2 linked regions of the Homo sapiens genome follow. The protein of the gene in region 1 purifies or fractionates together with the protein of each later gene. This does not show direct contact. Each region holds a gene or a part of one and is shown on either strand. Other genes may lie near its edges.

The links. Proteins that work in one complex are often made in the same cells at the same time.
Region 2: the proteins of INHBB (region 1) and ACVR2B purify together in Homo sapiens (affinity purification with western blotting; 2 studies listed by BioGRID and IntAct, with this or other methods). This does not show direct contact.

Annotation. Positions count from the first base shown.
Region 1 is NC_000002.12:120,349,116-120,352,436, forward strand, and holds the end of INHBB (inhibin beta B chain preproprotein), read left to right. Parts: coding exon 1-759; 3' UTR 760-2,688; downstream 2,689-3,321. UniProt on the Homo sapiens protein: Inhibins and activins inhibit and activate, respectively, the secretion of follitropin by the pituitary gland.
Region 2 is NC_000003.12:38,474,237-38,477,889, reverse strand, and holds part of ACVR2B (activin receptor type-2B precursor), read right to left. Parts: intron 604-3,653; coding exon 396-603; intron 30-395; coding exon 1-29. UniProt on the Homo sapiens protein: Transmembrane serine/threonine kinase activin type-2 receptor forming an activin receptor complex with activin type-1 serine/threonine kinase receptors (ACVR1, ACVR1B or ACVR1c).

The sequences.
Region 1 (3,321 bases):
CGGGTCCGCCTATACTTCTTCATCTCCAACGAAGGCAACCAGAACCTGTTTGTGGTCCAGGCCAGCCTGTGGCTTTACCTGAAACTCCTGCCCTACGTCCTGGAGAAGGGCAGCCGGCGGAAGGTGCGGGTCAAAGTGTACTTCCAGGAGCAGGGCCACGGTGACAGGTGGAACATGGTGGAGAAGAGGGTGGACCTCAAGCGCAGCGGCTGGCATACCTTCCCACTCACGGAGGCCATCCAGGCCTTGTTTGAGCGGGGCGAGCGGCGACTCAACCTAGACGTGCAGTGTGACAGCTGCCAGGAGCTGGCCGTGGTGCCGGTGTTCGTGGACCCAGGCGAAGAGTCGCACCGGCCCTTTGTGGTGGTGCAGGCTCGGCTGGGCGACAGCAGGCACCGCATTCGCAAGCGAGGCCTGGAGTGCGATGGCCGGACCAACCTCTGTTGCAGGCAACAGTTCTTCATTGACTTCCGCCTCATCGGCTGGAACGACTGGATCATAGCACCCACCGGCTACTACGGGAACTACTGTGAGGGCAGCTGCCCAGCCTACCTGGCAGGGGTCCCCGGCTCTGCCTCCTCCTTCCACACGGCTGTGGTGAACCAGTACCGCATGCGGGGTCTGAACCCCGGCACGGTGAACTCCTGCTGCATTCCCACCAAGCTGAGCACCATGTCCATGCTGTACTTCGATGATGAGTACAACATCGTCAAGCGGGACGTGCCCAACATGATTGTGGAGGAGTGCGGCTGCGCCTGACAGTGCAAGGCAGGGGCACGGTGGTGGGGCACGGAGGGCAGTCCCGGGTGGGCTTCTTCCAGCCCCCGCGGGAACGGGGGTACACGGTGGGCTGAGTACAGTCATTCTGTTGGGCTGTGGAGATAGTGCCAGGGTGCGGCCTGAGATATTTTTCTACAGCTTCATAGAGCAACCAGTCAAAACCAGAGCGAGAACCCTCAACTGACATGAAATACTTTAAAATGCACACGTAGCCACGCACAGCCAGACGCATCCTGCCACCCACACAGCAGCCTCCAGGATACCAGCAAATGGATGCGGTGACAAATGGCAGCTTAGCTACAAATGCCTGTCAGTCGGAGAGAATGGGGTGAGCAGCCACCATTCCCACCAGCTGGCCCGGCCACTCTGAATTGCGCCTTCCGAGCACACATAAAAGCACAAAGACAGAGACGCAGAGAGAGAGAGAGAGCCACGGAGAGGAAAAGCAGATGCAGGGGTGGGGAGCGCAGCTCGGCGGAGGCTGCGTGTGCCCCGTGGCTTTTACCAGGCCTGCTCTGCCTGGCTCGATGTCTGCTTCTTCCCCAGCCTGGGATCCTTCGTGCTTCAAGGCCTGGGGAGCCTGTCCTTCCATGCCCTTGTCGAGGGAAAGAGACCCAGAAAGGACACAACCCGTCAGAGACCTGGGAGCAGGGGCAATGACCGTTTGACTGTTTGTGGCTTGGGCCTCTGACATGACTTATGTGTGTGTGTGTTTTTGGGGTGGGGAGGGAGGGAGAGAAGAGGGGGCTAAATTTGATGCTTTAACTGATCTCCAACAGTTGACAGGTCATCCTTGCCAGTTGTATAACTGAAAAAGGACTTTTCTACCAGGTATGACCTTTTAAGTGAAAATCTGAATTGTTCTAAATGGAAAGAAAAAAAGTTGCAATCTGTGCCCTTCATTGGGGACATTCCTCTAGGACTGGTTTGGGGACGGGTGGGAATGACCCCTAGGCAAGGGGATGAGACCGCAGGAGGAAATGGCGGGGAGGAGGCATTCTTGAACTGCTGAGGATGGGGGGTGTCCCCTCAGCGGAGGCCAAGGGAGGGGAGCAGCCTAGTTGGTCTTGGAGAGATGGGGAAGGCTTTCAGCTGATTTGCAGAAGTTGCCCATGTGGGCCCCAGCCATCAGGGCTGGCCGTGGACGTGGCCCCTGCCCACTCACCTGCCCGCCTGCCCGCCCGCCCGCATAGCACTTGCAGACCTGCCTGAACGCACATGACATAGCACTTGCCGATCTGCGTGTGTCCAGAAGTGGCCCTTGGCCGAGCGCCGAACTCGCTCGCCCTCTAGATGTCCAAGTGCCACGTGAACTATGCAATTTAAAGGGTTGACCCACACTAGACGAAACTGGACTCGTACGACTCTTTTTATATTTTTTATACTTGAAATGAAATCCTTTGCTTCTTTTTTAAGCGAATGATTGCTTTTAATGTTTGCACTGATTTAGTTGCATGATTAGTCAGAAACTGCCATTTGAAAAAAAGTTATTTTTATAGCAGCAAAAAAAAAAAAAAAAGAATACAGTTAAATGTATTATACATAATTTTGGAACCAAAGAGGCCAACAGATCAGTTTTAATTTTATTAGACGGTGAGGCCATCTGAGATGAGGTGGACGTTCTGAGCAGTCCCTTGAGTGGCCTGCCAACGTTTCAGGGTATGAATGGATTTTGTTTATTCGGTTTGATGTGTCTTTTCCATCCTTACACACCCAGAAGGTAGAGTAAAAATGACTATGATAGAATGCAGGTGTGTATCCTTAAATCCTCATCTTTATGTTTATTTAATAAAGCTCCCCTTAGATTCTGTTTCATAATAATTTAAAACCAAACAATTTTCCCATAGACTTGCTGTTAAAGTATTGTACGTTTGTGTACAGTTTAAGAAAATAAAAGATTGAGTGCCACGGGCCTCCTGCCTTGCGTGATGTCTGGGGCAGGGAGGCCTGGGCTGGAGGTGGGCAGCTGGGAGGAAGGCCAGTCCAGGTGTCCAGGTTGGATGCCAGCAGCTTCCACGGCCTGCTCCTGGCATCTCTGCGTCCTTGCCATGAGATGTATGTCGGGCAGAGATTCCAGGAAAAATGGCTGAAGATCAAAATGAAGGACAATTAGCAAATTCATGAATTACACATTTGTTTATCCTGCTAGTCCCAAGATTGATTATGTTTCACCAAGGCCACATCCATTACCATTTGCAAGTGCTGGGTAAGCCCCCGTCCCCAGGTGGAAATGTAAAACCCTGAAGGCTGAAGTCCAGCTAACCTCTGCTCACCTCTATTTGGAGGTGACTGGGACCTAGAAGTGGCTTGGTATCTTGGGATAGAAGGGTAAACAGAGTCAGGCTGTGAGTGTACGAAGGAGCCCTTCCTGAGGGGGTTTTCCCGGTGGAGAGTGGTGGTAGGGGCGGTGTAGTAATAATGGCCCACTGCGCAGGTGTAACTGGGATACCCGCCGAGTCCTGCTGTTACCATGCAGCATCGCATCTTTGTGGAAAGTGGCTTTGTCTGCATTTCCCAGAGTTTGAAAATCTGAGGCTTAGA
Region 2 (3,653 bases), on another chromosome or scaffold:
GGTTCTCCTCAGTGGCCACACACTCCTGCCTGGAGGCACAGAATTTTCCATATACCCCTCACCTGGGGGATGCAAGACTCCCCCAGGCCTGCCCTGCCAACCCCTCCTCACAGACAGAGCACCTCATGGGCAACACCAGGGGGACGGTGTGAACTCACCTCCCCTACAGGAGACCCAAAGCCAAGGAAGAACAGCCAGGGGTTGACACTGAGACCCCTCCTCAGGGCTAAGGTAGGACAAATAGGGTGTGGAAGGGCGTGGGGCCATGGCTACCATCTCAAGAGCCCCTTCTTGGTCCTTTATCTCCCACTCAGACATCCTGAGACCCAAATGGCCCAGTGGGCAGTATAAGCGCAGGTGGGTCCAAGAGGAAAGGAGGGCAAGTCTTGGGGTACCTATCGTAGCAGTTGAAGTCATCTAGCCAGCAGCCCTTCTTCACGAGCTCGATGGTGCCAGAGCTGTTGCGCCAGGAGGCGTAGCAGTGCAGCCGCTTGTCCTGCTCGCCTTCGCAGCGCTCCAGGCCGCTCTGGTTGGTGCGCTCCAGCTCCCAGTTGGCGTTGTAGTAGATGCACTCCCGTGTCTCAGCCTCCCCACGCCCAGAGCCTGTGCCCCAGAGAAAAGAGAACCACTGAGCATGCCCCTGGGACCACCACCCAAACCCCTACTCCCAGTCCTGGGTGCCAGGCCACCCTGAGGGAGGGAGGCCGGGTGGTGGGTTGGGGTCACCAACCTCCTGCACTCACCCCTGGACGTAGGCCACCCATCCGTCCCACACCTCTTAATTTACGTGTGCCAGCTGGCACCAGCCCCCACCTCATTCTGCAGCCCATCACAGCTGCCCCTAGGCCTAAGCAAAAGGGAGGAGGCAGGAAACCTAATGCCACAGAAGGATGGATAAACAGCCAGACAGACAGAGTCCAGATGCACAGAAAGGGCACCAACACCTGAGGCTCCTGCGTGGGGGTGGGGGCTACTTCCCTGCTGCAGCAGAAACCGATGAAGAGGCCCCCTTAAAACCCCAGTGCACATCGGAATCACTGTATGTTGCAGGTGTGGGAAAGGGGAGCAGTGTTCATTCAAATACGTATTTCCAGGCCCAATCCAGACCCATCCCAATGGGAATGGGGGCAGAATATGTGCTTTTAATCACCCCTGTCTGTCTCAGGTGATTGTGATAAAGATCTCAAGGACCACCTGGGAAAACTACAAAGGGGAGTGGCTTCCTGCTGCTCCTGTCTCTGCCCCCAAGCCCCCTTCTCACAACAGTTCCCCAGGGAGACCATGCCAGTGGGTCCTCCACAACTCCCTGCCCATACGGAATGGAAAGGACCCTGTAAGTGTCCTTTCTACACCCAGCAACCACACCTGGTGCTCGGCAGGGCTGGAGAACTTAAGGAATGAGGCCTGCGTGTACAGGGTAAGCCTCCCAGAGTCACCAAGGGGAATACATGCCTCAGGCAGAGGAGAGCTAGCTGGTGGCTTAACCTGCAATCACAGATCATTCTCCTGGCTAGGCTCCTGATGACCCCAGGGCACTCCCCATCACTTCTGAACCCCCTTCCACCTGCTGCAGGAAGTGCCATCCAGGTGGACAACGACTTCAACCCCCACCTGCCCATTCAAACACTTTCCTTCAAACTTGATTTCAAACATTCCCCAAATCCATCTTCCTCACCATCCCCTACAAAACAACCTCCAGTCCCAGCCCCAGTCTACTCCCACTACCCGCAGGAACCACATAGCCCTGACATAGGAAAGAGTATGGAGATGCCAAAGGAGGTTCGGTTCTGTCTGAGAGCTCTGCCAGCACCCCATTATAGGCCGCCCACAATGGAGGCAGGTGGTGGCATTTACAACCTCACTGCCAGAACCCCACACAGACACCCGAGAGGATAGTTGCACCAAGCATCCAGCCATCCTATCCACACTTTTTGGGCCCACATAGGCCAGTGACCTGGCACCACTCCTGGCTGGTCTTCTCCTACCACTATTCCCATCCCAGGAAGGAGGGAGGGGTCAGAGTCAATCCCACCAGACAGCCAGCCCACCAGCAGCCAAGAGCCCTACTTCGCCATCAGCCTGAAAGGCTGACTGGAGTAGGAAAGAACACGAACCCTGCCCTGACCCTGGGGGAGGGCAAAGTACCCTGAACACTAGCGTAGCCTAAGGACATCCTCACGCTCATCTCCACCCCTACTGTTGGCCTTCATGAGGAAAGAGCTTGATTTCCCAGGGTATACCCCAGAGAGAAGGATACTGACTGGCTGTCAGGTGAAAGAAGCCCCCCACCACTGGAGCGGCCATTCTCCTGTCAAACCCAACCCCTTTCTGCAACTCCCTGAAGTGACAGGATGCTTCTTCCAGGGGCAGGAGCAAGCAACGAATCTCAAGGATCCAGGTAGCACCTAAGGGTCCGAAATGTCACCCAATCAGAATGGCAGTGCCCAGCCACAGCTCTGGTCATCCTGCACCAGGTGGCCTAGGCTCTGACACCTGTGAAAGGAAAATGCATGGCCTCCTGACCAGTCAGTCAGCTGGGACTCAGCCTCTTCTAAAGGAAGGGCCTCAGGGTCCACAGAGAGGCTTACAAGGGTACACACTGGCTTCCCCAGCCAGGCCCTTCATCAAGCATGTGGCTTTAAGGTTTAGAGGGAGAACCTGAGAGGGTGGGGTGGGGGTAGTAGACCAAAGGCTGAACAAGCACACCGGGGCCAGGACTGAGGCTTGCACCTACATTGTCCCTGTCTGCCTGCAGCAGCACCCAATTACTGGGTTATTCGAAGCACCCTGCCCAGAGGCCACAGGGCCTCCTCTCCCCAGGCTGGGCCCCACTGCATCCACGGCAGCAGTTCTAGTGGGGGTCCGTGGAGACCTGAGACTTGTGGGGCCAGCCATGAAGCTGCACTGCAGACAGGGAAGCTGGGCACTCCCCTACCTTCCTCCCCTCACTGCAGCCACACCATAATGTCACACCCTTGAATGTGTTTGGCTTCTAGGCTTAGCGTAAGTCGGAAGTTACCACCTCTGGCCGTAAGGTTACCCACCTTCCTCTGATTTCGGCTCTTCCCTCTCCCCTGAGACCAGGCAAACTCTCTATTTCCACTGGCCCTTGTGCTTCCCCTGCCACCTAACTTAACCACCCTTGACTAATGGCCTGTTGTTGCTTAAAGGATTATTTCAGACATCCAAAAAGTGTACCAATAATATAACCAAAAATAATCTCAAGAGGAAATAACACAATGAACACTTGTATGAGAAATAAAACATTACACATGTACTCGACAACTACTTTCTAAATGTCAGGCTTTCCCCACAAGACTGGAAAGCCGACAAAGGCAGGACCCTTGCCGTCCTAAGTGGCAGAATCATTCCAAACACATCATAGATGGATGGGTGGACAGACAGAAGGACAGAAGGGTATAGGTATCATGGCTAGAGCAACATGTCGAAAGGAGGGGACAACAAGGATGGCCTCAGCCTGCAGCCCAAGCCCTAGGTCCTCAAAGAGTTTCCATCTCCATTCAGACAAGCAACAAGCCTCTGTGCTGAGGCAGGAGCCCAAACAAGGGAGGCCAACAGAGTAACCTCCTCTCTCCAGGCCACTGATAAGTCAGGGACCACCCACTTGCCACTACCATGGGCAGTACCCAAGT